Linked DNA regions of Homo sapiens: all the other regions are linked to region 1. The links come from fine-mapping of genetic effects on gene expression. A gene starts in region 1. Each other region holds a variant in brackets. All regions are shown on one strand. Distances are from middle to middle. Region 1 holds the start of GAS7 (growth arrest specific 7). Region 2 overlaps GAS7 (growth arrest specific 7). Region 3 overlaps GAS7 (growth arrest specific 7).

Region 1 (10,487 bases):
GCTAGTCTGCAATATGGCCCTCGATGAACCACGCCTCCCTCATAACCGCACCTGTACCCACCTCCCTTCCAAATTGACTCTGGACAGACCTGTGACTACTTTCCCAATAGAATGTGGCAGAAACGATATGCCAGTTCTGGGCCCAGACCTTAAGAGGGCCTGGCAATGTATGCCTTTGCATTCTTAGAAGCCAGCTACCACATAACTCCTGAAGAGAAAGGCCATGTGGAAAGGCCCTGGAGAATGAAACACTACATGGAGAAAGGCGCCACATGGAAGAACATCAAAGCACCAGACAGGTGAGTGAAGATGACATTTTGGAGGCTGCAGTCTAGTTGAGCCTCCAAGACTCTGCCCCAGCCACCATCTGATTGCAACTGCATGAGAGACACTGAGACAGACCAGCAGAAGAACCACCCAGCTGAGCCCCGTCAATCCACAAAACCATGCCAGATAATAAGAAATTGTTGCTTTGAAACACTAAATCTTGGAGTGGCTTGTTACATGGCAATAGATAAAACATCATTCCTTAATTATCCATAGCACAGCCCACTCTCTCCCACAGACACTCCTTATCAACTCCTGCAGCACAACTGCATGAACCCAAAATGGGAGAACAAAGGGTAGAGTGAAGAAAATCAAGTTTAACGGTGACCCTCAGCAGCCATTCTAGTTGTGCCAGCAAACAGTGTCATATTCTGTTAGTAACCCAGAAAGAAAGGAAAAGGCTCTTTTTAGGAAAGAGAAAAGGTCCAGATTATCCAGCCAGATCCTGGATTCTAAGAATACCACCTAGTTCAAAGAAAGCTCTATTTTGTTTGCATTCCAATCCCATTGTCCCCCAGAATTATTTCCCAAAAGCTCTGGGAAGTTTTGTAGATGCCTTACAACATTCCCCAGGTCCCTAATTTCTTCTCTCCATTCAAGGAAAGTACAGGCCACAGGAATTCCTGGACCCTATTAAACCCTCCAACCACTGACCTGTCCAGCCACTGGGCTTGTCCTGGTACCATGTCTTTCTCTCCAAATTTTCCCCAGGATGGAGATCTAGGATTCTCTATCCACCTTCCCCAGGAGCTATTTCTCAGCCTTGATGTACCCTAGAAAGCTGGTGGAAATATTCCCACATGTGGGGTTCCCAGGTCTATGGAGGCAATCTCAGGCCTAGCTTGGAGCTGGCAGAACATGCTCCCACAGCTCCTATCTCTGGTCTCAGGTCTCTTCCTCTACCATATCTCTCAAATGATGTTAAAAAGACTTCTCGGCCGGGCACAGTGGCTCACGCCTGTAATCCCAGCACTTTGGGAGGCCGAGGCGGGTGGATCACAAGGTGAGGAGATCGAGACCATGCTGGCTAACACGGCGAAACCTCACCTCTACTCAAAATACAACTGCACTCCAGCCTGAGCAACAGTGCGAGACTCTGTCTCAAAAAAAAAAAAAAAAAAAAAAAAAGACTTCTTAATTCCTGTCCCTCGTCATAGCAGAAGAAACCCTCAGGAAAGATTTTTCTAGTTGATTTTATCTAATAACCAGCTGTGGGCCTTGGCTGTAAGGCCTATTCCTTTTCTGGAGGTAGGTGTTTCCCTCTGCCCATCCTTTGAAGAGCTGCACCACCCCGAGTAGGAAGAACCCTTGTGGCCAGAGTCCTTGGGCCTACCAGAGACCTCTACACTTCCCTGCCTGTGCTGAGGTTTTCCTGGAAGCTGCTCTCTGGAAGCCAAGTATGTGCTATACCATTTCCTTGGAGTCTTGACCAAAGAGATTGCCCCAAAAACCAAGACCTCCTCCAAGCTGGCCTCCTCCCAAGGGCTAGCTGGCCACTGGGTCAGATCTGGTGACTCTCTTGGAGTTAGCTCCCAACTCCCCTCCCCCGTGTATGCTTCCTGCAAAGGCTGGGTCTCTCGGTTCCCCTTGCTTCATCTGAACAAGGAAGATCTCCTTGGGAAGTATCCAGTGTGCACACAGTATTCAGTGCCTCCCTCCCCTCCACCAAGATGGGGTTTCCTAGTATCACTCTTTCTATCAGGGTGAAAGTTCCGCTGGAGTAGGGAGCACATTAGAGATGCCATATTCATCTGTGTACCCACAATCCCATCCCTAGGCCAGGAGGCTAGTACAGTCCATCTGTCTGTACTTGTTTCTCCAACAGCTGCCCTGGCCTTCTGAACTCCATGCTCCCAAGCAAGCTGAGTGACAGCACCACATTGGCTGACATCTCATGAGGTTCGCCATCTCCAGTATCTATGGGCCCCCTCTCTAGTCTCATGAGTCCAGATGCTGGCCAGTCTACCCACCAGCCTGGGGACCTCTGCATTCTCTGAGTCTGCCCTTCAGGACTCACCCCATCCCAAGCAACTCTGCTTGCATGTCCTCTATCTCTACCTAGCCTTCAGCCTTGAGGTCCAACTTGCTCATGTAGGAGGTTCCCAGATGCCAAGCACCTGACCCACATGCCCCCCTGTTGAAACTGCATCTGCTTTGGCCCTGAGAAGAGTCCCACCCAGTACTTAGGATACAGGACTCGGGCCCACTGTGGGAAGACCCCCAGCTGGTTCTGAGTAAAGTCACACTTTGGGGTTAGCAGGGAAGATCCTCCAAGTTGCTCCTGGATGCAGCTGTCCTCGTTTTAGCCCTAGAGGTTCAGCCTCCCCTTCGCGGTGCTGTCACCAACATGCTGACCTCAGGGGCTGCGCATGCCCCTTTTCCCCATGGATCCAGACCCTTCGCTCACACGCTGTTTGGCATAGTTGAGCCCGGGCTATCATGTTTAAAAAAGGCACAGGCGCAGGGGGTGATACTCAGTCATCTGAGCTGCTAACAAAACACGCAAGCATTACTAGTTGGGGAGCTGACTTCGCCTCTCTCATATTCAGCTTGCTTGTCTATAAAATGGGGGAAGTACCTCACCCTTCACAGAGCTGTCAGGGAACTGGTGATAACGTGCACACACTGTGCCAAGCAGGTGCTCAGAAGTATTGCTCACGCAGATGGATGCTTCTGTTGCAAGTTACTAGTCAGGAATGGTCTGAGAGGCCCTGAGACACCAGAGATCTCTTACCTTTGTATATGCCAGAGGATGGGACAGACACACCCAAAACTGTCCCAGTTGTTAATTCCGCTTGTCCCCTGGCCCTGGTCCATCGTCCCTTTCCCGGAAGAAAAAGCAGCACTCCACTCTTGCTAACTAACACCTACCCAGCCTCACCCCTACACAAAACACAGCTGGCTCAGTCCAGCCAGGGATGCTCCTCACCGGACAGACATCCATCAGCCAAATTTCCACATCAGAATTTCCTGGAAAAGGGTGACCACCCGAAGAACTCCCAAAATACGTATCTATCCCAGGGCTTCAAGCTAGAAACAAGGAGGCCCCTTGCTTCTCATGTAAGAAGCAATACGTTCGCTTTCTTTTACATCCGAATCTCGGGAAAGGAACTGGAAAAGCCAGGGCAGGGCACACCTGAGCCTCTCCTACAAGTAGGGTATCTCCGGATTCTCCAGATACAGAACCAAGAGGGTTCCTGCAACATACTCTGCTGACAGCCCATGAAAGCTCATTCCAGCAGCCCCTAAACTTTGCTCAAATGCTACTGATGCCTTTAGGAGAGATTTTGTTGTTCTCTGGACCTGAAAGCAATCTAATGTACTTTTATAAGGCCAGGCTCTTGCTGACAATGTTGCCACAGGATACATCCTCAGGCGGACTCACCCTGTAACCATTTCACTTCTTTCTTTCTTCCCCCCGCCCCCGATGAATTGCACTGAGCATTCTCAGTCAAAATTTGCTACTTTCTCTGTGAAGTAGGTCAAGAGTTAAATAATAAATAAATTCAGCCTCCATGATTTCTTCCGGCAGTGTTTTACCAGAATGTTTAGGAATACTGACACCATTGAAGGTAACTGTTAATTTAGTCTTTACAAGAATCCTGGGGGCAGGCGGGCTTCTAGTAAAGGGGATGTCCTGGAAGGTCACCCCCCCACACACAAAGGACTTTAGAAACTTCGGGTCTCACTCAGGCTGTGACTGCGAGCTCAGTGATTAGAGGACAGCCTGTCACATAGACAATAAACAGCCAGCCGCCTTGCCTCAGCAGGTCCTGTGCAGCCCTGGGGCCAGGCCAGAACCCCAGGAACAAGCCACTTTCGGGTTCTGAGCCTTAGCCTCGGGGAGCTGGACCAGGGGAGCAGGCAGTGGCGGGGGGTGCTACGGCACCCCAGGATCAAGCCTGCTGAGGGGGCTCGGGCTGGTGGCCAGCAGGCTCGGCTGACCAGCAAGTGGGTGGTCCCGAGGCGGCCAGGCAGCCTGACCCAAGGCAGCACGACCGTCCACGGGTCATCAGGCTCTAGACTCCGGGGTGGAGACGCGGGGCTGCGGGACCGAGTCGGTGCCACTTTCTCGCACCCCTGATCCTCCGTGCCTCTTCCCAAGACCGCCAGACCCTTCACCGGCCCCTGCCACTGCCGGGAACGCTCCCGCCTGCTCCTTAACTCACACAGGCAACAAGTTCTCGCTTCCTCAGAGCAGCCACGGTGTGCTCCGGAGGCCCGGCGCAAGGTGGAAGCTCCCCGCGAGTCCGCGTTGCCCACGCCCCGAGGGGCGCCCGCTGCCGTCGCTGCCCCCCAGGAGCGTGGAGCTACAGGTAGCGCCGGCAAGGGCTGCCCCCCGGGGCGCCCCTCCGACCGGGACGCTGCGGCATCCCCGGAACGGGCAACAGGTACGCGAGCGCACCGAGGACCGCAGCCCCGGCTCCTACAGCCCCGGCCCTCGCCCCTTACCTCCAGCAACTGCACGTAGCTCGCCGGGAACCAGCCACGGAGCCCGTCCTCCTTCTCGCCTTCCCACCAGCCGCCGTCCGGGACCTGCAGCAGCGTGATCAGCTCGCCCGCGGCGAAGCGCAGCCCCTGGCCGTGCCGCTCCCCGGAGAAGGGGTACAGGGTCCGGCAGCGAGCGCCGGACATGGCCTTGGCGCCCGGGTTCACAGCGCAGCCTGCATTCCCGCCGAGCCCCACGGGCTGGGCAGCGGCTCCGCGGGGTCCCAGGCGCCCGGCGCTCCGGGCTCCCGCGCTCTGGGCGCGCGCCGTCTCTGGGGTGCGCGGGGGTCCTCAGGCAGGCGGGGGACGCGCGCTCCGCGCCGGGAAGCAGAGACTCGTTGGCTTCGCAGAGCGAGCGGCGACGCCCCCGGGCCGGGCAGCTCGCGGATCCTAGCTCTGGGCTGGGGGGCGGGGCTCAGGGGGAGGAGACCCAGGCGCCGCGGGCTCCGGAGACAACTTCCCGGGAACGCGGAACGCGGGCTGCCGCCGCGAGGGCTGGCCGGGGCCGGGGCCGGGACCGGGGCCGGGGCCGCCCTGGCGCGCGGAAATGCGCAGCTCCCCCGGGAGGTGGGACCCGGAGCATCCCCCGCGGCAGGACTCCGCGGCGGGCGGCCGTGGAGAGGAGCTGGCGGCCGGGTGGCCGGGCGGGGGTTAGCTCACTGGCGAGGGGGCGGGCCGGGGCGGGGCCAGGGCGGCCACGCCCGCGGAGGGCTGCGCGCTCCCTCGCAGAGGGGCCTGTCACTGGGGAGAGGGGCTCCCACTCGCGCCCCCACCGCCGGGGACCGCGGGAATGGAAACGCCCCTCTGTTCTGTGCCTGCTTTGTAGGCCTGGCGGCCCGTGGCGTGCGGGCGGCTTCTTCGAGGTGTCTGCGAGGGATCGTTTGTGGTTGTCATTGTAGTGGTTGAACCTGGGGTTGAACTTGTCTCACCGGAAACTGAACAATGGGTGAAAGACAGGTTTGAAGCCTGGCGCCTGAGCCCAGCAGCCTGGTGGCAGCGTGGCACGCTGGAGGGACGGAATGGAGAGAAGACGGGGTCGGAGTTGATAGAATTGGAAACAGTCGATGGGGATAAATGGAGGAAAGGCGAACGGTGAGAGGAACAGCACCAATGCTTTTACTTGCAGAGGGAAGGCCGGCCCAGGGTACCAGCCCTCCCGAAATCGAGATGGGTTGGCTAAAGAGTCTACACTCATGTAGTCAGTCAACAAACATTACCAGGAGGCTGCCATGTTCCATGCGATGTGCCAGGTACTACAAACATCATTTGGGCCAGTCCCTGCTCTCCAGGGACCAGTGAACCTGAGTGCTGCAGAATGTTGACCTTGAACTGACCGTACAGAAGTAAAAGAAAGCTTGGTTTCTTTGCTAGTCTACTCCATAAAAAATTTTAAAGAAATAAAATAAAGTACATTTTTTAGCCTGTAAATAGCTGGACTCGGCCAGGCGCGGTGGCTCACGCCTGTAATCCCAGCACTTTGGGAGGCTGAGGCGAATGGCTCACTTGAGGTCAGGAGTTCAAGACCAGCCTGGCCAACAAGGTGAAACCCCATCTCCACTAAAAATACAAAAATTAGCCGGGCGTGGTGGCGGGTGCCTGTAATCCCAGCTACTCAGGAGGCTGAGGCAGGAGAATGGCTTGAACCCGGGAGGTGGAAGTTGCAGTGGGCGGAGATCATACCACTGCATTCCAGCCTGGGTAACAAGGGTGAAACTCCGTCTCAAAAAAAAAAAAAGCTGGACCCTTTAATACGCCTGTATACCTCTGTCTACTCCTTCCCCCCTCCCCCAGTCACCTTCTGTGGCTCCCTATTGCCTTTTAAATTTGGTACAAACTTCTCTGCCTGTACATTTCAGGCCCTCCACAACGCCTCCTCTAGCTTCACCTCTTACTATGACTGCCTAGATATCCATTACAAAACCAGTCAGGCCGGGCTCCAAGAGCCTGAAGATCTTGCGCACCTGTCTATGCTTTGAATCAGACCCTGGCACAGAGCCTTTCACCTAGTTCAATGGTTCTCAATCCTGGCTGCACATTACAGTCATTATGCAACTTTTTAAAAATACTCATGCCCAGGTTTTAAGAGTCACTACTGAGCCCTAGTCTGCAGCTAAGCCATCTCACCTGAGCAGCCTCCATCTGTTCTCTGGCCATGGGCAAAGTGACACAAGCAGATTATTTGTAATAGTCCATCAATTGCAAAGTCTTGAACATTCGCTTGGCCGGAAATATAAAGAAACAAACTCTTGACCACAGTCACCACTAAGAGTCCCTTAAAGCGGAGCTGCATAACTTCATATCAAAAACAGTCATTAAAAATAGCTGGCCCAATGAAGTTTTAAAAGAGATACAATTCCTTGTATCAGGAAAATATGTGACTTCCAGCAGGCTGTTCTGAGGCTTCATTCCTGATGATGTGGCCTGAATCAAGGTAGGACAACTGATTTCCAGCCATCCTGCAACCCTAATTCTCTGCATGCCCGTGAGGAACTGTGATCCAGTTTGGACTTGAGAAATCGCAGCCTACACAGCATGCCATACACTTGAGTTCTACCTGACCCACCTCAAACATTCCTGCAGCAACCAAAAATGATAATAGCTGTTAATTTCTCCACTTAATTCATTTCATTCCTGTAATCCTACGAGCTGATGAGGTGACTGTTGTCCCAGTTTTCAGGTAAAGAAACTGGGCTCAAAGAGTGTGACTTGCTCACCATCATACAGCTGGTCAACAGCAGAATCAGCTTTGAACTCAATTCTAGCTTATTGTACACTGGTGTTGCTTTCTGTCGTCCCCCCTGCCAGTCAGAAAGCAGGTATCCTAGTGACTCACCCACAAATAGCATCTTAAGAGAAAGTTCTCTAGGCTGGGCACAGCCTGTGAGAGCTTATGCCTGTAATCCCCACACTTTGGGAGGCCAAGGCGGGCGGATCACGAGGCCAGCAGATTGAGACCAGTCTGGCCAACATGGTGAAACCCCATCTTTACTAAAAATACAAAAATTAGCTAGGTGTGGTGCCGCGTGCCTGTAATCCCAGCTACTCAGGAGGCTGAGGCAGGAGAATCGCTTGAACCTGGAAGGTGGAGGTTGCAGTGAGCCGAGATCACGCCACTGTACTCCAGCCTGGCGACAGAGCAAGACTCCATCTCAGAAAAAAGAAAAGAAAAGAAAAGAAAAGACTCTCTGGTGATACCCAATGTCAGTCTTCATAGAAATAAGACTGGACTAGCAGTTAGTGGAACTCCTGTTGCTGATCTCTTATCAATCAGGTAACCTCCAAATCCTCAAGTCTTCCCATACCTTTGGGTCTATTTCCCCGTCTGTAATTGGAGATCGAATCCAGTAACTGGAATATGGGAATTTAAATGGTTAAATGTAGTTAGTGGTTAAATATGTTGGCTCTGGACTGCCTTTATTCAAACCCCATTTCTGCCACTTTCTAGCTGTGTGGCATTGGGTGATTTACTTACGTCTCTGAGCGTCATTTTCCTCATCACTACAAGAAGACAACAGTAGTATTAATATCATAGAGTTATTAAGAAGATTAAGTGAGGAAGCATGTAAACTGTTTAGAGCAGTGCCTGGCACATTAAATGCCCCTATGTTAGCGATTGTTTTTATCTATCCAGTTCAAGGGTCCTGGTGATTTATTACGTAACACTTCTTTTTTAACTAAGATTTCTAGAGCAACAATAGAAGGAGGAACTCTTACATCTTTGGGATGCCACAAATTTTGTAGAAACACACTTTGGCTTTCTGTTTTCTCCCAGGATCTTGAAGGAAAGATAAATTCCTCCCTTATCAATTTTCCCTCCTGCCTTCTCCCTCTCTGATTTATATTACTATCTTGAAATTGTATTTAAATCTTTAATTATTTTTGCTTTTTTTTTTTTTAAATTGAGACAAGATCTGGCTGTATTGCCCAGACTGGAGTGCAATGGTGTGATCTTGGCTCACTGCATCCTCTGCCTCGCGTCTCAAGCCATCCTCCCACCTCAGCCTCCAGAGAAGCTAGCTGGGACTACAGGTGCACACCACCATGCCTGGCTAATTTATTTTTGCTTTTTTTTTTTTTTTTTTTTTGAGATGGAGTCTCGCTCTGTAGCCAGGCTGGACTGCAGTGGCACTATCTCGGCTCACTGCAAGCTCCGCCTCCTGGGTTCATGCCATTCTCCCGCCTCAGCCTCCCAAGTAGCTGGGACTACAGGCGCCTGCCACCACGCCCGGCTAATTTTTTGTATTTTTAGTAGAGACGGGGTCTCACCGTGTTAGCCAGGCAGGTGTCAATCTCCTGACCTCGTGATCTGCCCGCCTCGGCCTCCCAAAGTGCTGAGATTACAGGCGTGAGCCACCACACCTAGCCTACTTTTGCTTTTTAAAAAAATAATAATTATTATTAAGTCTTATTTTACTGGTTAGACTGTTAGTAACTCAGGAGAGGGATAGCATCTTTGTTTTAAATTTCCATCTATCTTTTTTTTTTTTAGACTGAGTTTTACTCTTGTCACCCAGGCTGCAGTGCAATGGCATGATTTTGGCTCACTGCAACCTCCACCTCCGAAGTTCAAGTGATTCTCCTGCCTCAGCCTCCTGAGTGGCTGGGATTACAGGCATGCGCCTCCACGCCCGGCTAATGTTGTATTTTTAGTAGAGATGGGGTTTCGCCCTGTTGGCCAGGCTGGTCTCGAACTCCTAACCTCAGGTGATCCACCCACCTCTGCCTACCAAAGTGCTGGGATTACAGGCATGAGCCACCATGCCTAGCCTATCTATCCTTCTTAAAGCCTAACGTTGACTCATACAAAAAGCAGGCATTCAGTACTTCTTGATCTTTTGCATAGATTGTTTGGACCCTGTTCATATTTAGATTTTCTACTTGCTAAGTTGTTGTATAAACCTGTGTCAGAGCTTTCTCTAGACACTGTGCATTTGTTAGTTATGTGGTGGCTGGTATTTCATTTCTACCCAAGACAACCTTATACACCTTTCTATCAGCCTATGGATGGCAGAGAAATGGAAAGGTTTCCATTTCTTTACAACGTTAAACATAGCCAGGCGTGGTCGCTCATACCTGTAATCCCAATGCTTTGAGAGGCTGAGGCTGTGGGTTCCCTTGAGGCCAAGAGTTTAGGACCAGCCCAGACAACATAGTAAGACCCCTGTCTCTACAAAAAATAAAATAAAATAGAAAATAAATAAAATAATTTAGCCACAGGACGTGGTGACATATCCCTGTGGTCCCAGCTACTCAGGAGGCTGAGGTGGGAGGATCACTTGAGCCTAGGAGATCGAGGCTGCAGTGAGCCATGACCACACAACTGCACTCCAGCCTGGGCAGCAGTGCAAGCCCCTGTCTAAAAAAAAGAAAAAGGAAGAAAAAGCAAGTTAAATATAAATTTACCTAATGACCCAGCAATTTATTCCGAGGCATCTACCTAAGAGAAATGAAAACATATGTCCACACAAAACTTGTAGTGAATGTTCATAGCAGTATTATTCACAGAAGTCAAACAGTGGAAATAATCTAAATGTCCATCAGCTGGTGAATAGATAGACAAGATGTAGTATGCCAATACAATGGAATATTTACTCAGCCATGAGAAGGAGATATTGATTCACGCTACAACATGGATGAACCTCAAAGACATTGTGCTAAGTGAAAGAAGCCAG
Region 2 (10,487 bases), 180 kb before region 1:
AAGAAAGCTTCATTTACAAAAACAGCTGTGAGTTGAATTTGGCCCATAGGCCACAGTTTGCCAACCCCTGAGTTAGAGGATTTAGAAGTTTCCTCCTAGGATGATTATGAAGCAAAATCACTAGCCTCTGCAACCCACTTTTATGAAAGATCAAGTTATCAAGGTCTGAGGGTGGAAACAGATGTTCACCACAGCACTCAGTTCTAGGAGAGTCTCTGCCTAGGGACACAGGCACTGGACTCTTCATAGTTCCATCAACAGCCACCTTCTGTTTTGCTTGGTACCTCACTCATGCTCTGCTGACCACTGCCTTGGGCTTGGATGAAGCATCACTCTGCATGGTGGAATCTGGCTTTCTGAGAGCTTGGTAGGAGTCAGATGGTACAAACCAAATGTGTAGGGAAATAGCTGTGCAAGGGGAGGGGCTTGGCCAGTGTGAAATAGGAGACAAGACAGAGGTGAGTAGATAAAACATCTCTGCTTTCCTGCAGACTACTCCAGGCTACGGCTCCTCCTTGCAGCCCTTCCAGAAGTGAACATATCCACTAAGTGACCGGCTGGGACTCTGCATTTCACTGTCAAACACCAGCCAGCATCACTTGGCATTGTTCTTTGGCTTTCCTTCCCTTGCATACCTACCCTCACCACTTTGTACTGATACCTCCTAAATAAGGTGTTAACACTCAATCCTTGCATCAGGCTCTGCTTTATAGTGGGGGAGAAAGGGTTAAGATACCATCTCAAGGCCGGGTGCGGTGGCTCATGCCTGTAATCCCAGCACTTTGGGAGGCCGAGGCGGGTGGATCACCTGAGGTCGGAAGTTCGAGACCAGCCTGACCAACATGGAGAAACCCCGTCTCTACTAAAAATACAAAATTAGCCAGGCGTGGTGGCACATGCCTGTGGTCCCAGCTACTAGGGAGGCTGAGGCAGGAGAATCGCTTGAACCTGGGAGGTGGAGGTTGTGTGGGCCGAGATTGCACCATTGCACTCCAGCTTGGGCAACAAGAGTGAAACTCCATCTCAAAAAAAAAAAAAACAAAAGATACCATCTCAAATGGTACTCTTTGTTTAAAAAAAAAGAATGGCACAGATAAAACTACTGGATTTAGAGTATAAAAAGATTAATAAATAAGAAGTAAAATCTTGACTAATACATTAAACTAAACTAATCTTGGCCATCTATCTATACTGGCTTCAAATATCCCTAATGTCCAAATGGTAAAATGTATCCTAAACATATCTAAAAGGTCAGCATCTCTCCAAAAAGAGGGCCTGAATACCTATGACTATATTAAGTGAAGAAGCATGCATGCCTGGCCTTCCAGTTATATTTTTATTTTATTTATTTATTTGAGACAGTGGCTTGCTCTGTCACCCAGGCTGGAGAGCAATGGTGTGATTTCGGTTCATTGCAACCTCTGCCTCCTGGGCTCAAGTGATCCTTCCACCTCAGCCTCCCAAGTAGCTGGGACTACAGGTGTGCGCCACCACACCCGGCTAATTTTTGTATTTTTAATAGAGACGGGGTTTCACCATGGTCCCCAGGCTGGTCTTGAGCTCCTGGGCTCAAGTGATCTGCCCACCTCGGCTTCCCAAAGTGCTGGATTACAGGTGAGAGCCACCACACCCAGCCGACCTTTCAATCATAAATGGAGCAAAAAATGTTGTGCTATATCTCTTGAAATATAATTATTTGTTGTATAAATAAGAGGTCCCTGTCGTGGTCTGAATGTTTGTGTCCCCTCCAAATTCACGTGTTGAAACCTAATTCCCCATGTGCCAGTATGAAGCGGCGGCACTTTTAGGAGGTGACTAAGTCATGCAGGCTCCACCATCATGGGGTTAGTGCCATTAAAAGAGAAACCCAGGCAGGGCGCGGTGGCTCACGCCTGTAATCCCAGCACCTTGGGAGGCCGAGGCAGGTGAATCACGAGATCAGGAGATCGAGACCATCCTGGCTAACACTGTGAAACCCCGTCTCTACTAAAAAATACAAAAAATTAGCCGGGCGTGGTGGCGGGCACTTATAGTTCCAGCTACTCGGGAGGCCGAGGCAGGAGAATCGCTTGAATCCAGGAGATGGAGGTTGCAGTGAGCCGAGATCGTGCCACTGCACTCCAGCCTGGGTGACAGACCGAGACTCTGTCTCAAAAAAAAAAAAAAAAAAATTAAAAAAAGAGAAACCCAGAGGATCTTGTTTGTCCTTTCCACCACGTCAGAATGCAGCTGTTCTTATGAACCAGAAAGCAGGCCCACACCCGACACCAAATCTGCCAGCACCTTGATCCTGGACTTCCCATCCTCCTGAACTGTGATAAATAAATTTCCATTGTTTATAAGTCATCCAGTCTATGGCTTTTTGTTAGTGCAGCCTGCACAGACTAAGACAGTCTCCTTAACACTAGCTGAGGTCCCTGGATGGGGTAGGCTATTGATAATAGCTCACTATCCCAAACCGTTAGCAACACAGGCAACTTTTGGTGGGAATGGAGAGCTTCCCTGGACAGCACAAGACAAGCAATTTCCTGATACCAAAACCCTGGGAGTTCCTGGGGCTGAACTGAAGGCCACTCTGCATGATGAAATTTCCAGAGAGCCACAAGAAAGATGGGGACTTCCCAAAGTCCACGGAGCATGCTCTGATGGCATTGGCAAGTTTATATGAAAGCAACGGCATTACTGCATTAACCACTGAAACTTCCTGTTAGCCATCTGGCCCAACGCCGTTTACTAAATAATCCATGCTTTCCCCAGTGATTTAAAACAACACTCTTATCATAAACCTGATCTATATTTCAGTCTGTCCCTGACTACCCCTCCCTATCTATTCTCCCTTGCCTTTGATGACATTACCTTCTCCTGGATTCCTTGTATCTCTGACAATTCCTTCAAGGTCTCCTTGGCTGCTGCCTTACACCTGTGCTGCAAGGCCCCGGGTGATCTTCTACATCCTCATCACTTCACCTCTCTGCTGATGAAACACAAATCCTGGGCCACCCTCTGTGGCTGGGCAGGTTGGTCACTGCGCAACAGTGGCCAGGCCATGTACCCACATGGCTCACCAAGTTCCCATCTCTAGCTCAGAAGTCCTCTAAGTCACACCGTAGCCATCCAAATGCCAGCCATCTCTCCCAGAACGCACCCCAGGGAACCACACACTCAGCATGGACTCATTTTTCTTTCTTCCTAACCTGTTCCTCCCTTGAATACCCTATACTCACTGTATGGTCCCATCACACAAGGCAGAAAACCCGGAGGAATCCAGGCACTTCCAATCCCTGACCTGCCACAGCCACATCCTGTCTGACAGATTCTACCTCCTCCTCTCCAGCCACTGCTGTAGAATTGGTGTTTGACCTCATTATTTCTCCTCTCATTTAGTCTGTCGGCCTCCACGCTTACCGGCCTTAAAGCCTTCGCTCTGCCGCACAAGCAGCCTTGCCACAATATTCTGATCATGTCACGCCACCGCCTGGAAATTTCCCATGGATTCCCGCTGCCTACAGGATAAAGACCTGACTCCTCAAAATGCCCCAAGGCCCCTGACTCTCTCTCTCACCTCTTTCTTCCTTAACCAATGCCAAACACATCCGCTGTTTTTCTCTCCTGCCTGGTCTTTACTCATGCTGTAACCTTGGCTTGGAATGCCTGAGTCAAGGCCGCCCCCTCCCCCTGCAAAGACTTGGTTAATACCCAGATCAAGCTGACTACTCCCTTCCTCGAGCCCCCAGATTTCCACACGAATACCTGTAACACTTATAGGTTTATATGTGTCTCTGGCCCTATTAGAACTGCAGGTTCTGAGATCACAGACAGCATCTAGTTTGATTTTGGATCCCCAGAGCCCGGCTCAGTGGCTAGCACAGTGACAACCTCATCCATAAAATCCTAAATGGATGTGAAAATAAGCAGATTAGCCAGCCAGGTGCGGTGACTCACGCCTGTAATCCCAGCACTTTGGGAGGCTGAGGAGGGGTGGATCATGAGGTCAGGAAATCAAGACCATGCTGGCCAACATGGTGAAACCCTGTCTCTACTAAAAATACAAAAAAATAGCTGGGTGTGGTGGCGCATGTCTGTAATCCCAGCTACTCAGGAGGCTGAGGCAAGAGAATCGCTTGAACCGGGGAGGCGGAGGTTTCAGTGAGCCGAGATCGCACCACTGCACTCCAGTCTGGCGACAGAGCGAGACTCTGTCTCAAAAAAAAAAGAAAAGAAAAGAAAAGAAGCAGATTAGCCAAGGCAAGGTAATACAAATGTAAATTAGACTTTCAACTGGTTATAGGTGTAAAAATGGGGACAGAACACCTATTATCCCCAGGCACCCTCTGGAAAAGAAGAGATTAGGGATTAAGGGAGAAAGACTAGAAGCGTCTGGAAGAAAGGTAGACAGACAAAGAGGAAGAGAAGAATGGCCTGCTTAGAACCGGGACTGCACTTTCTGGGCACTGGGCTAGCATGTGGATGAAATGCCACCTGGAGAGCGACAGAGCAAAGATGCTTAAGCAAGGGGCCAGGCAGAAAGGCAGATAGATGCAGCTGGCCCAGCAGTGAGGAGGCACAAGCTCAGGTGCCTCCAGGAGTCAGGAGGTAAGAAAAACATGAGTGGCTATTCTCATAGATGCCTTCCTGCAGAAAGGCAGGCAGATTAAAATATATTTAAAACATCCCTACAGCCAAACAAAACAAGTCTAAGAAACGATTCCAGAGGAGAATCAGAAAGATAGCTGCTTTCCTTCTCCCTTAGACTGCCGAGCAAAATTATTAATATGATGTTCATGGGCTGCATGATCCCTACAAACACAGCTGACTCTTTGCCATCAGTAAGACACTCCCCATCCCCTAGCCCTTCCTTACCCTTCCCATCCTGCAGCTTCCTTCTCCAGGAAGCCTCCCCTGATTCCCCAGGGTCTCTCTGTGACATGCTCTTAAAACACCCTGGACTCCTGCTTCACAACCCTTTCCTGATTGATCAAATAGGTTTTCACTTAAAATCTGTTCCCACTATAAGAAGATAAACACTTGCAGGGCAGAGACTTTGTTCTTATTAAATCCCCAGTATCCCAAGACTCACTCTGCCTGGTACATATTTGAGGCTCAAACTATGTGTTGAAGGAATGATTCAATCAAACAGATAAACAATAAGTTAAGGTCGGGCACGGTGGCTCACGCCTGTAATGCCAGTACTTTGGGAGGCCGAGGCAGGCGGATCACAAGGCCAGGAGATCGAGACCACCCTGGCTAACACGGTGAAACCCCATCTCTACTAAAAATACAAAAAATTAGCCAGGTGTGGTGGCAGGCACCTGTAGTCCCAGATACTTGGGAGGCTGAGGCAGGAGAATGGCATGAACCCGGGAGGCGGAGCTTGCAGTGAGCCGAGATCGCGCCACTGCAGTCCAGCCTGGGTGAAAGAGCGAGACTCCGTCTCAAAAAAAAAAAAAAAAAAAGAGTTAAACAAGTAATGAATAAAACTGGCATATATCTAGAATGTAAGACCAAGGTAGGTGCTGGAATTATTTTTAGCATAAAAGAGGAGAGAGCCGAGCACGGTGGCTCATGCCTATAATCTCAGCACTTTGGGAAGCAGAAGTAGAAGCCAGAAGTTCGGGATCAGCCTAGGCAACATACTGAAACCCTGTCTCTACCAAAAAAAAAAAAAAAAAAAAAACAAAACAAAAAAAACTGTTTTTAGGCATAGTGTAATCCCAACACTGTGGAAGGTCAAGGCCAGTAGATTACTTGAGGCCAAGAATTCAAGACCAGCCTGGGTAACATGGCAAAACATCTCTACAAAAAATAATAATAATAATAATAATAATAATAATAATAATAATAATAATACAAAAAGCCAGGTGTGGTGGCACATGCCTGTAATCCCAGCTACTCAGGAGGCTGAGGTGGGAGGGTCACTTAAGCCCAGGAAGTTAACGCTGCAGTGAGCCATGATCGTGCCACTGCACTCTAGCCTGGGCAACAGAGTGAGACCCTGTCTCAAATAAATAAAAAATATAAAAAAATAAAGAAATCAGCCGGGCGTGATGACACATGCCTGCAATCCCAGCTACTCAGGGGGCTGAGATGGGAGGAGTGTTTGAGCCCAGGAGGTTGAGGCTGCAGTGAGCCATGATTGTGCCACTGTACTCTAGCCTGGGCAACAGAGTGAGACCCTGTCTAAAAAAATAAATAAATAAATAAATAAATAAATAAATAAATAAATAAATAAAGAGAGGAAGGGCAAATAGGACAAGTCCTTGTGGAGCCAACAGACAGCCTGAAGCAGGGACCAGCAGCTATGGTCCAAGGGACCAACTGGTCAAACCAACTATCATATGGCCCAGTGAACTTGCCAACGAAAATCATCTTCCACTTTTTTTTTTTTTTTTCCTTGA[G/C]ACAGACGGAGTCTTGCTCTGTCACCAGGCTGGAGTGCAATGGCGTGATCTCGGCTCACTGCAACTTCCACCTCACGCGTTCAAGCGATTCTCCTGCCTCAGCCTCCCGGGTAGCTGGGACTACAGGCGCCCGCCACCACACCCGGATAATTTTGATATTTTTAGTAGAGACGGGGTTTCACCATGTTGGTCAGGCTTGTCTGGAACTCCTGACCTCAAGTGATCCACCTGCCTCGGCCTCCCAAAGTGCTGGGATTACAGGCATGAGCCACCATGCCTGGCCAGAACGATGATATTTTATAACACACACAAGTCATCTGAAATTCCTATTTTCGGATCCATAGATAAAGTCTTATTGGAACACAGCTACACTCATTTGTTTACCTATCATCCAGGGCTGCTTTCATGCTGAAACAGTAAAGCTGAGTGGCTGGGATGGAGACCATGTGACCCTCAAAGCCTACATACTGACTACTTGGCCCTTTACAGAAAAAGTTCACTGACCCCTGGCCTGGAGCCTCTGTGGGATCACAATATCTCAGGACCCATAAGAAAGCTGTCACCAGTGGCATCTGCTAAAGTCTGAGTCCCAGAAAAAAGCTGCCAGACACTGTCTATTGATATAAAATATGACTTAAATTAATAGAGTGCAGGTGAAATTAATAGCATACCCATGCGATGGATTACTACACAGCTGTTTAAAAGAATGGGTTAGACTGAAATGTACAAAGTATAGAAAGATGTCCACATACACTGTCAAAGTAACTTAAAGGACAACATAGACAATATTTTCCAATTTATTTTAAAAGAATAAGTATACATATGTTTAAAAGGTGAGACCGGGGATTATTTTTTATTTGAAATCATTTTGTACTTACTGAATTTTTTACCGTGAAAACAAACTAGTCTCTAACTTAAAAAAAGATAAAGATGCTGAAATTCAGAAAGCCATTTCCCCCCATGCCCCTTTGCAATAGAGTAGCTTATTTGGGACAATAACGGATCCAAATTATTCATATCCCCTAGCAACCTGACCTTCCAATAATTTGGATCCAATGTTGTCCCAAATAATTGATGATCTCATGATCCTACGGTCCAAATTCTGTGTTTGGCAGATGGGTGTTGCATACATAGACACACTCTCCTCTGAAATTTCAAGTCTCCGGTAACAGTGCAAAGCTGTTCATGTGTTTGTTTTGAGGAAGTGTAAGATTAGAACGGTCAGAAATAGTCCTACTTCCCTTTTCCTAGAAACTTCATTACCTCTTGCGCTAGAACACCCCTCTTGAGCCTGTGGAAGGTCAGGTTGCCAGGGGATACGAATAAACCAGCTGCCTTCTTTGTGTCTCTGCTAAACAGTAGCTGGCTCCCCTGTCACTAGGACCCCCTCCTGGTGCAGGCTTATAAACATCAGCTGTAGTAACGATACCCCCAGGTGGGAAGGGGTGGTCATGTAGTCAGGCAGGCACAGAGGAGTGAGAGGCCAAGGCTGAGCCAGCAGTGGACTTGGGTACGATTTTCATCTTTTGCCTTGGAACGCATGTCTGTGATTCCCACTAAATCTAACTTTCCTTGGTTTAAATCCTCTCAGTTCTCTCATGGCAATTTCTCTGGGGAGTCACGGAGGTCAAGACACAGCTCTGTTCAGCTGGTTTACCCTGTCCTGCCCTGCCCAAGACCACAGCCTGCAACAGTGCCCTTTGCTCACCTTGTTACAGAACCTGCCACGTGGTGCATCCCCTTTTATAAACCATCCACAGCAAACTTCTGGGGATCCTGGGGTCATTTGAAGGCCTGGGAGGTCCCTAATTATTGGGGTCATTGAGGTGTGGTCCTATTCAACTCAGATGCACATGGAACCTGTACTATTTGATGGGATAAATAACCCATAAGCACCCCCGGCATTTCCCAAAAAACATCTGGAGAAATGCCAGCCAGTGAGATACTTAAGGAAAAAGATGACGTTGTAGTGAAATTAGGGAAACCTCGCATTTGCAACCCCTGTATTGAAGCTTCAAGATCATTAAAACCTTCAAAATTCCAAGACATCATGCAGTGACTTTGCCTCGTTCATTTTATTCAAGCCAGCTGTTGACCATAGAACCTTTTGAGACACCCTTCAGAAAACCCAGCCCCAGACGAACAGGTTGGGTTTAACACAGATACCCAGGGTGGACGTCAGGGTCCAAGGAAGACTCAAACCATAAAGGGCAGCCTTCCTTCCAAGATACTCCCAGAACTACAGACCCAGACTTGCACCCCTACCACCCAGCACAGTGGGAGGAGTAAGACTTTACTGTAGCCCCTGAGCATAGACTTAAGAAGAAAAAACCCCCAAACAGAGAGGCGAAGAAGGGAGAAAAAACGTGCCCCTCTAGAGAGCCAGAATGCCAGGGGGTTGGTGCAGGATTCTCCCCCGAGCGGGACTCACCATTGGTGGTCGTGTTGACATAGTACCGCCGGCCCTGAGGCGACAGGTAGCTCTGCCAGCCAGGTGGAAGGATGACCGTCTGGCTTTCTTCTCCCGGCGGAGGGGGGACCATTCCAGGCTTCTGTTGGAGAAGAAAGAAAAGGTCACACCCATTTGGCATTTTTGCAAGAGTTTTTAAACCAGGAAGGCAAAGGCTGATGAATTCACCCTACAGTAGCGTGACATTGGGAAGTCTGCGGCCCATAAACCCCTGAGGTCAGAGGCAGCACACACGTGACCTCCGGGGTTGCGTGAGCATGAGCAGTGAGAAGCACCTGAGCATTCAGAGCCCCTGCACAGAGGACAGCTCCTCTGGGAGCAGAGAGGAAAATGCCATTCAGCTAATGGAGCTAGACTTTCTCCACGGCCCCCTAGAAAATCACTCACGGGGTGCTGAGCTTGCAAGGGGGCCCTGTCACTCCACCACCTCCCATTGTGAAATCTGAAGCCTGAAATTCCCAGACCACGAAGCACAGCAGCAGACAAGGCCCCAGGCTTGCTGTGCAAACCTAGCAGAAGTAATTAATGCAAGTCATCCCACAGCCAGATGCAAAACATTCTATAATAATGCTGAGAATCCATGAAGAGCTGGATGGAGCTTCTCTCGCCAAGGGTCCAGATCACTCTGGCAAAAAGAACGAGGACTCGGAGACAGAGCAGACGCTGACTTCCCATTGTATGCATTTATGTGCAATTAATTCTTTTAACCATGTATAGAATTACTTTTCGTTAAAAAACAAATCAGAGAAAAATGTATATGACATACAAAGAAACTAGATATCTAGTAGACAGATGCTAAAAAAAAAACAACCATGGCCGGGCGCAGTGGCTCACGTCTGTAATCCCAGCACTTTGGGAGGCCGAGGCGGGCGGATTGCCTAAGCTCAGGAGTTCGCGACCAGCCTGGGCAACACGGTGAAACCCCACCTCTACTAAAAATACAAAAAATTAGCTAGGCGTGGTGGTGTGCGCCTGTAGTCCTAGCTACTCGGGAGGCTGAGGCAAGAGAATTGCTTGAACCTAGGAGGCGGAGGTTGCAGTGAGCAGAGATCGCACCACTGCACTCCAGCCTGGGTGACAGAGTGAGAGTCCATCTCAAAACAAACAAACAAAAATATAAAAACAAACAAACAAAAAACAGCCACGATCCCTGGGTGCTGGGATTACAGGCAATTATTATACTCTCCTTTCTACATATCTGTTCCCCCTAAATTTTCTCCCATAAACACAGAAATAAAAGTTGTTAGCTAAAGAACATTTTAAAATTAGGACAGAGAGTCCAAATTAGCCCGTAAGATTGCTGTGCCTTTTGAAGTAAATTGATTAAAATCAGAATTGTAGCCATACGAAGAGAGTAGCCATGAATTTCTCAGCAAAGCCAGGGGACTGTTCACAAACAGTAAAGGTAATCGGCTCCCAAATGTCCTCAGTATCCCCCAGCTGTGCCCATAGTGGTGGTCCCTGGTGACCCCCGCTTAGGAAAACAAGATAACAGAATGAAAGAGAGCAGCAGAGACACACAGCTCCCAGGCTACTCTCACGCTTTGTGAAGGTTGCAAAACCACGTGCCGTGGCTTCCCGTAGTGCCCTGCATGTCATTGGAGGGAACGAGTAAATCTGAG
Region 3 (10,487 bases), 84 kb before region 1:
GATAAAAAATAACAGATACTGCCAAGGATGAGGAAAGATGGGATCTCTTGTACACTACTGGTGGGAATGCAAATTGGTACAGCCACTGGGGAAACCAGTACAGAGACTTCTCAGAAAACTAAAAATAGAACAACCATACCATCCAGCAATCCCACTGCTGGGTATTTATCCAAACAAAAAGAAATCAGGATATCAAAAGACATCAGGCCAGGAGCAGTGGCTCACGCCTGTAATTCCAACACTTTGGGAGGCCAAGGCAGGTGGATCACCTGAGATCAGGAGTTCAAGACCAGCCTGGCCAACATAGCAAAACTCCGTCTCTACTTAAAAATACAAAAACAGGGCCAGGCGCGGTGGTACACGCCTGTAATCCCAGCACTTTGGGAGGCAGAGGCGGGTGGATCATGAGGTCAGGAGTTTGAGACCAGCCTGGCCAACGTGGTAAAACCCCCTCTGTACTAAAAATACAAAAATCAGCTGGGCGTGGTGGTGGGCGCCTGTAATCCCAGCTATTCGGGAGGATGAGGCAGGAGAATCACTTGAACCCGGGAGGTGGAGGTTGCAGTGAGCCGAGATTGTGCCATTGCACTTCAGCCTGGGCGACACAGCAAGGCTCCGTCTCAAAAAAAAAAAAAAAAAAAAGATATCAAAGAGATACCTGTACTCACACGTTTACTGCAGCATGATTCACAATAGCAAAATTATGGAATCAACCTAAGTGTCCATCAATGGACAAGTGGATAAAAAAATGCGGTATATATACACCGTGGAATTCTATTCAGCATGAAAAAGAAAGAAATCATGTCATTAGCAGCAACATGAACGGAACTGGAGGTTATTATGTTAAGTTAAATAAGCCAGGCATAGAAAGACAAAGATCAGTGTTCTCACTGATATGTAGGAGCTAAAAAAGTTGCTCTCGTGGAGATGAGAGTAGATAGTTAACTAGAGGCTAGGAAGGGTGTGTGGGAAAGAGGGGGGATGAAGAGAGTTTGGTTAAGGGGTACAAACATACAGTTAGACAGAAGATATAAGTTCTTTTCTTTTTTTTTAAGACGGAGTCTCGCTGTGACACCCAGGCTGAAGTGCAATGGCGCAATCTTGGCTCACGGCAACCTCCGTCTCCCGGGTTCAACCAATTCTCCTGTCTAAGCCTCAGCCTCCCAAGTAGTTGGGACTACAGGTGCATGTCACCACGTCTGGCTGATTTTTGTATTTTTAGTAGAGACGGTGTTTCACCATATTGGTCAGGCTGGTCTCGAACTCCTGACCTCAAGTGATCTGCCCGCCTCAGCCTCCCAAAGTGCTGGGATTACAGGCATGAGCCACTGCGCCCAGCCAGAAGATACAAGTTCTAAAGTTGGATAGCAGAGCAGAGGGATTATAGTTAGCAACAATATATCACACATTTTGAAACAGCTAGAAGAATGTTTGTTCCCAACACACAGCAATGACTGACGCTAAGGTTATGGATACCCCAAATACCCTGACTTATCAATTATTATACATTCTATACATGCAACCAAATATCACATCTACCCCATAAATATGTAAAACATTACGCGTCGATTAAAAAGTAAAATAACACAAGATGCTCTATTTAGACAGGGCTAGTTTGCTTTGGTGTCCACAACTTGTAGGTCAGTAACTGCTGTGTACATCTATGGATATCAAAAGTCCTTAAGGGGGCCGGGTGTCTTGGCTGGCACCTGTAATCCTAGCAGTTTGGGAGGCTGAGATGGGAGGATCCTTTGAGGTCAGGAGTTCGAGACCAGCCTGGTCAACATGGTGAAACCCCGTCTCTACTAAAAATACAGAAATGGCCAGGCGCAATGGCTCACGCCTGTAATCCCACAACTTTGGGAGGCCGAGGTGGGCGGATGATGGGTAAGGAGATTGAGACAATGTTGGATAACACAGTGAAACCCCGTCTCTATTAAAAATACAAAATAATAGCCAGGCGTGGTGTCGTGCACCTGTAGTCTCAGCTACTTGGGAGGCTGAGGCAGGAGAATGGCATGAACCCGGGAGGCGGACGTTGCAGTGAGCCAAGACTGTGCCACTGCACTCCAGCCTGGGTGACAGAGTGAGACTCTGTCTCAAAAAAACAAACAAACAAACAAACAAAAAACCAGAAATATACTTGGGAGGCTGAGGCAGGAGAATCGCTTGAACCCAGGAGGCAGAGGGTACAGTGAGCCGAGATCACGCCACTGCACTCCAGCCTGGAGACAGGGCAAGACTCCGTCTCTAAATAAATAAATAAGTCTTTAAGGGAGGCCTATATTCCAAGGGAATTGCGACCCTCCTTGGTGGGTCTGGCAGCCTAACCCCAATTGTGTTTCCAATAGGCGAAATTCGGGAGTTCCAAAATTGGACCAGGTCATGGGGCCTGGATACCCTGATGAAGAACTGCTGCCGTGTTTCGACTTGAGGAAACCTAGACCAGATACACTCTGCTTCTTAGACTCTTATTTTCATGCTAAAAGCATACAGTTTAGACCTGTGCTCTCCCATATGGTAGTCAGTGGACACATACAGCCCCTCAATATAAATTAATCCAAATGAAAGAACCACTTCCGCAGTTGCACCAGCCACATGTTAGTGGCTACCGTACTGGGCGTCACAAAAGTAGAACATTGCCATCCTCAGAGAGTTCTACTGGGCTGTGCTGCCTGAGGGCATCTCTCCAGGCATTCTTTGCTACAGCTTCACCTCCAGCTCCCTGACTTAGAAAAGCCTGGGAGCAGAGAAATGCTGTCACTGCATCCAATTCCACCGTGGATGCATCCTCGAGCACGTGACCGAAGACACACAGCGAGGGATGCTTTCCAGGGGTGTTTGCCCACGTGTGGGGCTTTTCACTGAAAAGACTCTATCTTTGGAAAGGGAGAGGCAGAAGACACAGAACACTGGAAAACAAGAGGAAGACTCAGGCAGGAGCAAGGTAGGGCAGATGGAGATGAGAGAGAGGAGGGAAGTAGGAAAAGATAATAGGAGTAGCATGTAGAAAATGGAGTCTAGCCGGGCGCGGTGTCTCACGCCTGTAATCCCAGCACTTTCAGAGGCTGAGGTGGGTGGATCACCTGAGGTGAGGAGTTCGAGACCAGCCTGACCAACATGGAGAAACCCCAACTCTACTAAAAATACAAAATTAGCCGGGCATGGTGGCACATGCCTGTAATCCCAGCTACTCAGGAGGCTGAATTCAGCAGGAGAATTGCTTGAACCTGGGAGGCAGAGGTTGTGGTGAGCTGAGATCATACCAGTGCACTCCAGCCTGGGCCATGAGAGTGAAACTGCATCTCAAAAACAAACAAAGAAAAGAAAAAAGAAAGAAAGAAAGAGAGAAAGAGAAAGAAAGAAAAGAAAAGAGAGAGAAAAGGAAGAAAGAGGGAAGGAAGGAAAGAAAGAAAAGAAAAGAAAAAAAGAAAAAGAAAAGAGAAAAGAGAGTCCAGTAGTGTCATCACAAGTAGAAAATTCAAGTGTTGCAAAGGATTCTTTCCCTTAAGATCTATATGTAAAACAACCGACTGGCCTGCAGAGAGGCTAGACCAAGTCCACCCAACGATCTGCAAGACAGAGGGTCCTCTGAGGGTCCACTCCCTATGGCCCAGGGAAGCAGAGAGGGACCCCATCCACTCACTGCCTGCATGGGAGGCTGCAATAGAGTGGGGGAGCCATGGGAGAGAAATTCAACAGAAAGTAAAGACAAACTTTTCCAAGCAGAAATTAAAAAAAAATCTGAAAGTGCACGATGCTGGCAAGGCTATGGGAAAGCAGGCACTCCTACTCGCTGCTAGCAGAAGTGTAAGCTAGAACAGTCTTGTTAGAGGCAATCTGGCCCTTTCTGTCAAAACTACAAACACATATATTCTTTGTTCCAACCTTTCAACCTCAGAAACTTGCCCTTCAGAGACCCTCACCCACGTGCAGAATGATGGATATACGAGGCTATC[C/A]ACAGCAGCAACAGGTAAAGGTAACAGAGAAAGATTAGAAGCAACCTTTATGCCCATTGGTGAAATGAGTGGGGCAGGCATTAAACAGGAGGAGGAAGCTCTTCCTATTGACTAAACTCCAAGATATGTTATATGATTTAACAAAAAGCATCAGTAGCACCAGCAAGGTGCAGAAGTATAGAGGGGATACCTGTGTTCAGAAAACCACAGAGATCGCATTTTTCCGCCCCCTACAACTTGTGCCTCTCACTTCCCGACACACGGTTTCCTGGGTTAAGGAAAATAAAATGAAACATATTTGGAAATTCCTGGACTACTTCTGGAAGTACCCACAAGAAACTGATCACTTGTTTGCCACTCGGGAAGGGAACTGATAGGTTGAGGACAGGGATGGGAAGGAGACCAACTTTTCACTCTACGTTTTTTGTACCTTTCAGATATCAGACCTGAGCATATATTACCTATTTGATAAGTATAAAATTAACAGATATACTTTTGGGTATACATACTGACCAAACATACTTCTGTCTCTTTTGTTTCTCAAGATAGGGTCTTGCTATCTTGCCCAGGCTGGAGTGCAGTGGTGTGATCACAGCTCACTGCAGCCTCAACCTCCCGGGCTCAAGTGATCTTCCTGCCTCAGCCTCCCGAGTAGCTGGGGCTACAGGCATGCACCACCACGCCTGGCTAATCTTTTTTTTTCTTTCATTATTTTTTGTAGAGATGGGGGTCTCCCTATGTTGCGCAGGCTGATCTCAAACTCCTGGGCTCAAGAAATCCTCCTGCCTCAGCCTCTTAAAGTGCTGAGATTACAGGCATGAGCCACCATGCACTTTTCCGTCAATGCTACAGTCTCACTGGGAAGGAAGCCAGTGCCTGCCAGGTGAGTGGGCCCAGGTTACCAGAGCACACAGCCCTGTGCTCCCAAGATGCAACAGGCCCCTCGTTGTGCCCTGCCCTGCAATCTGGTTCTTCAGAAGAGGAGTTCCCAAATACCTGGTCCTCTGCAAATCTGAGCTGTAAACAAGCCTTGGAAAGGTCCTCCCCTTACCTAAATCCCAGCTTCAGGGTCCCGTTTCTGACTGGGGTGCCACCACCAAAGGCAGGGTATACACAGCCACCGAGTGATCCTCTGCCTGCTTCTCACTCCAGGGAAGAAAATCAAAGCAGGTCCCATGGCTGCCGTCTGATAATCACTATGGACACCACACACCAGCCAGCATCAGGGCTGTGTCCAATTAGCCACCCCCATAACAACACCATAGCAACAAAGGTAATATTATTGTTCTAAAGAGAAGAGAAAAACCACACACACACACACACACACACACACACACACACACTGTGTTGTGTGACAGCTTTGAAAGCCACAGAGATCGCATTTTTCCACACCCTAGAACTTGTGCCTCTCACTTCCCGACACACAGTTTCCTCAATGAGAAGTCACAGGCTTGGGGCAATCTCCTCTTCACGCCATTCCAAGATGCGTGTCCTTCACAGGAAACTGGCATGAGAATGATTCTCTGGCAAGCCAGGAGTCAGGGCTGCCTCCTCGCTCTGCCTCTGTGGCTGGCAGGGCTGGGCCAGCTGCAGACCAACAGGCTGGGGGTCATGCTCCAAGCTGTCCTCTGTCTGTCTGTCTGTCTGGCTGGCTGGCTGGCTGCCTCTCTGTGCCAGACCCAAGCTGGCACTGGGGTTTTGGTGGTTGCATCAATGAGCCACACGCTAATCTCCAGACCTAAATGTGGAAAGCATTAACCCAAATGAAAAGACATAAATTAGGACGGGGGCTTATGGGATGGAGGAAAACAGCTCTTCTCTGAGCGAGAGCCTGGGCTGTTGCACAAGAGCTGAGTGAGTCACCAGCCAGCAGAGGGAAGGACCAGGGACGGAAGGAGGGAGGGGAGCCCCCCGTGGGACTGGCGGGTGCACAGGCGGGGGGAACGCTGCAAAAACACAGCTGTAGGTTCATAACTAAGCACACTTCATCAGCAGTCTGAAGGAGGGTGGGGGGCAAAGTGTCACCTCCTCCCCAACTCAGGAAGTGTTGCAACACGTGTCCTCCCCAGAGAAGACAGCAGAAAGAAGTGTTCCTAACTGTTCACCCTTTACAGGCTGCAGCTGTGCCCCGGGGAAGCACACCTCAGCACAGAGAAGGCCTCTCTCATCCCTCCTTGCCCCTTCTTGGCAGTGTCCATACACTTGGGGGTCCCCTAGCATGAGGTGTCCATTGTGGGCACACAACTCTTGCCCATACTTATTACCATTTCTTGTCTTTTCTTCCTTTCCTTTTTCCAAACTCCCCATCCTCCATACTACTGTTGTTAACAACAAGACAAATCCTTTGGTCTCCCCCGCCCCTAGTCCCTGGGGAGAACCTTATACCTTCCCTTAAAACCGTGCCCCACTCACCAACCTCCCCAGCCATGACAGATTCCAAAGCTCCAATATCCAGGCAAATTCTTAGTACCTTCTACGAGTGAGGCACGCTGTCCCTGGGGGTGGCAGTGGAGAGAAGGAGCTCTCCCAAACAGATCATCCAACCAGGACTTCTGAGACTTAGAAGCCCTAGAAATTTGCTCAGCACCTTGGTGGGACCCCTCACCTCTCCAGATCATCATCAAAATGAGGTTGGGTTGGCCGGCCATGGTGGCTCACGACTGTAATCCCAGCACTTTGGGAAGACAAGGGAAGTGAATCATTTGAAGTCAGGAGTTCAAGACCAGCCTGGCCAACATGGCCAAACCCCATCTCTACTAAAAGTACAAAAATTAGCCGAGTGTGGTGGCGTGTGCCTGTGGTCCCAGCTACTCAGGAGGCTGAGGCAGGAGAAGAATTGCTTGAACCCAGGAGGCGGAGGTTGCAGTGAGCTGAGATTGTACCACTGCACTCCAGCCTAGGGGACAGAGTGAGACTCTTGCCTCAAAAAAAAAAAAATGTTGGGTTTAGAGATCAGCTGGGTCCCTTAGACTCTGACAGTGCTCATCTGTAAGAAATGCATGGAACAAAATGAATACTCTCCAGAGTACCTGGCTGCTGCAGGGCTTACCCCGGGGAATGCAAGCTGAAGAAGAGTGCCCTGGGCTGAGCGGGTCTCTGCAACTGGCCGGGCTGCTCACAGCCACTGGGTGCTCAGGAAAGGTGACCAGCAGATAGCACCAGCCGCATCCTGCCAGGGAAGTCACTTACAGGAGAGCTCTTGCGGGTAGGGAGTGGGTCTGAAGTGGACTTAGAGGGCAGCTGGCAGAGACAATGGGAAGAGAAGGTATTCCAGACCAAGGAATCATTCATTCATATTCATTCATTTATTTATTCGACACAGGTTTCTTGAACACCTCTTATACACCAGACGCAGGTTTCGACACTGGGATACATCAGTTAACAAGACAAAGATCCATGCCTCAGGGAGCTTACATTCTAGCAGGGGAGATACACAACCCACAACAAGCCAGACAGACAGGTCAATGATCCAGTTTTGCTGGAAGGTGATAAATGATGAGGGGGGGAAAAGAAAAAACAGAGCAAAGGGGTGGACCTGCCAGAGTGAGTGAGAGACTGAAAGGAGATAAAGAGGTCTATTCATATCCTGAGGCTGCTGTAACAAATTCCCATACACTAACGGGCTTCAAACAATGAAAATTTATTATCTTACAGTTCTGGAGGTCAAAAGTCTGAAACAGGTTTCACAGGGCTAAAGTCAAGATGTCTGCAGGGCTGGCTGGTTCCTCCTGGAGGCTCTAGGAGAGAATCCATTTCTTTGCCTTTCTCAGCTTCTGGAGCCCACCCACTTTCCCTGGCTTTCGGCCCCTTCCTCTCGTCACTCAGCCTCTTGCTTCCAACATCACATCTCCTAACACTGATTCTGGCCCTCCTGCCTCCCTCTCATAAGGACCCTTGGCTTACACTGGGCCCACGTGGATAATCCAGGATTATCTCCCCATCTCCGGTTCTCAACTTAATCACAACTGCAAAATCCCATCTGCCACAGAAGGTAACATATTCACAGGCTCCAGAGATTAGAAGGTAGACATCTTCAGGGGACCATTACTCAGCCCCCACAGGGAGTTGGGCTGCAAAGGCCCTGATGAGGAAGCATGCCTGGAACATTTAAAGAAACACCACGGAAGGCGGAGGACAGAGGCAGGAGTGACACAGGAGTGAGACCAACGGGGAGGAGCAGGTGCTGAGGTCAGGACAGCAATGGGGACCCAATTATGTAGCACCTCATCAGCCACTGTAGGGCTTCCGCGTCTTCACTCTGCCGACATGGGGCACCACTGGACTGTGGTAAGCAGAAGCACGATGTGTTCAGACCCTTCCTGTGAAAACAACAGACTAGGGACCAGCAGAGCAGCCAGGAGGCGCCTGCAACAGCCCGGCAGCATTGTGGTGGCAGCTGTGGCTCAGTCCAAGGCTACAGTGGTAGGGTGGTGAGAAGTGATCCTGTGTTTAAAGATCTGTTTTGCAAGAAGGGCCAACCTGCATTCTCAACATGCTGAATGTGGAATGTGAGAAAAAAAGGGGAGTCAAGGTTTTTGCCTCCAGCGGCTGGAAGGACAAACTAGCCATTTACTGAGCTGTGAGAAGCCACTGTAGCCCAGACCTGGGCTAGGCAACTGCGTCCTGGACAGGACAAGTGGAGATGTCAAGGACACAGCTGGACCTACTTGGGTCTGCACTTTTCCCCGAGGGTAACAGGCAGCACCAGGACCCTGTTGCTCTCCAGGGCGTGGAGACAGCCAAGACCATCCCGGATTACATTTCTAAGTCAGTCACTCGTTGCAAGACAAGATGATAGAGATGGAGTAAACAGGGATATCGCCTGAGCCCTCGGTTTCTCAGCCAGGTATTTTTCCGCTTCTCACAGCGCATAAGGTGGGAAGGAAGTCATGGGAGCACAGCTGGATTCTGGAATGCAGCCCAACCACAGGCTCAAAATCCTCATCTGTGAACAGCTCCACTCACTACCTGGTCAGCCTCTCCGGCCTGCCCTGGGGGCCCTCACTGCCCTGCCAGTCAATTCCAAAAAGCCCTCGTGGGCTGGGCGCAGTGGCTCACGCCTGTAATCCCAACACTTTGGGAGGCCAAGGCTGGTGGATCCCTTGAGGTCCGGAGTTTGAGGCCAGCCTGGCCAACACGGTAAAACCCCGTCTCTACTAAAAATACAAAAATTAGCCAGGTGTGATGGAGGTAGTCCCAGCTACCCTGGGGGCTGAGGCAGGAGAATCATTTGAACCCAGGAGGCGGAGGTTACAGTGAGCTGAGATTGCGCCATTGCACTCCAGCCTGGGGGACAGAGTGAGACTCTGTCTCCAAAAAAAAAAAAAAAAAAAAAAGCCCTTGTGTATCTCTGGGCTGTCTTAACTTATCAGGGGGGTGGTCCTACCCCCGGGGCCCAGTTAACCATGAGGACCAAGCAGGCCCAGCGCAGGTGGCCAGCCTGTGCAGCACCTCCCAGAGGAGGCAAGTGTTCCCCTCCCACTGGACACCAGCACAACGTACACATGCCACATGGTGACATGCACTGTAAGAGGATTCTTACATCTGTCCCCAGGGACAGATGGCACTGCTGAGTGCCTTCCGGGCACTTTCAGCCATTCATTCATTTGACAAATACTTATGGAGCATATACCATGCACCAGGCGCTGTTTCTAAGTATCTGGGGGCACATCAATGAAAAAAGCAGAAGGGAAATAAACCCTTGCTTTCCTGGAGTGACGGCTCCAGCATGAGGTGGGAATGGGTTGCGGGGAGCAGACACTAAACACAATAAAAAAGTGAATTCTAAAGAATGTCAGAAGGTGATCGGGGGAATAGAACATGGTAAAGGGAATCAGGAGTTCAGGGTAGACTGGAGTGTGGGTGGCAATTTTAGAGAGTTCAAGATGTTACCCTTGCTAAAGATCTTTCTAGCTCTTCTGCTCACTGTATTGATTTATTCCTTCATTAAGTAGTTACTGAGTGCTCACCGTGGGCCTGGCCCAGGCCCTCAGTGCTCTCATGAAGCTGACATTTTATTTAAGGAGACAGAGGTTAAGACAACTAATTATAGAAAGGTTAGAAAAGAGCATGTCTCAGGGGATTCCTACGACCATGCCAATCATGACGAAACATGCTAAACAAGCTGGGGGATGCTCCCAAGAGTGTCCTTGATTCTTGTTTAAGGTCCAAGGCCCACTTCTCTCCTCCTTCCTCTCCCAACACACCACACCCTGAGTTAGTTAGAACTGCTGTCTTCTCATCTACAGGAAATCACAACTCAGTGGTTTCTCTAGAAGCTGCCCACTGTCCTTAGAACTTGCCTGGTGCCACCCCAAAGCACCTGCTGGTGTTAGGCCTCCTCAGCTAACTTGACATTCCATGCTTCAGACCCAGCATATCTTCTTTAGAAGCACCAAGTTCAACGAGTGGGTCCTTCAGGCTGTCTTCTCCTGGCAGTGCTGATCCAAGCACCTGCTGGGCGAGTTTGGTTCCTTTTGCCTGACTATTCTCACGCCCAGAGCCAGGCAGCCTGGGGACAGAGGAAGA

What was found.
Region 2: its variant is fine-mapped to the expression of GAS7 in lung (TOPMed, PIP 0.96).
Region 3: its variant is fine-mapped to the expression of GAS7 in whole blood (INTERVAL, PIP 0.99).

Annotation. Positions count from the first base shown.
Region 1 is chr17:10,193,429-10,203,915 of GRCh38, forward strand. GAS7 (growth arrest specific 7) reads right to left here and starts at 5,178. Exons shown (of 14, transcript NM_201433.2): 1 at 4,780-5,178. The coding sequence starts at 4,962.
Region 2 is chr17:10,010,951-10,021,437 of GRCh38, forward strand. GAS7 (growth arrest specific 7) reads right to left here. Exons shown (of 14, transcript NM_201433.2): 2 at 8,827-8,947. Among named protein-coding and RNA genes, the nearest start is that of RCVRN, 110 kb to the left of the region's middle. The variant G/C (reference allele first, on the strand shown) is at 6,396.
Region 3 is chr17:10,109,432-10,119,918 of GRCh38, forward strand. The region is part of intron 1 of GAS7 (growth arrest specific 7); the gene reads right to left. Among named protein-coding and RNA genes, the nearest start is that of GAS7, 84 kb to the right of the region's middle. RefSeq lists a silencer at 5,823-5,882 and enhancers at 7,837-8,366, 8,367-8,896, 9,427-9,954, 10,129-10,487. The variant C/A (reference allele first, on the strand shown) is at 3,960.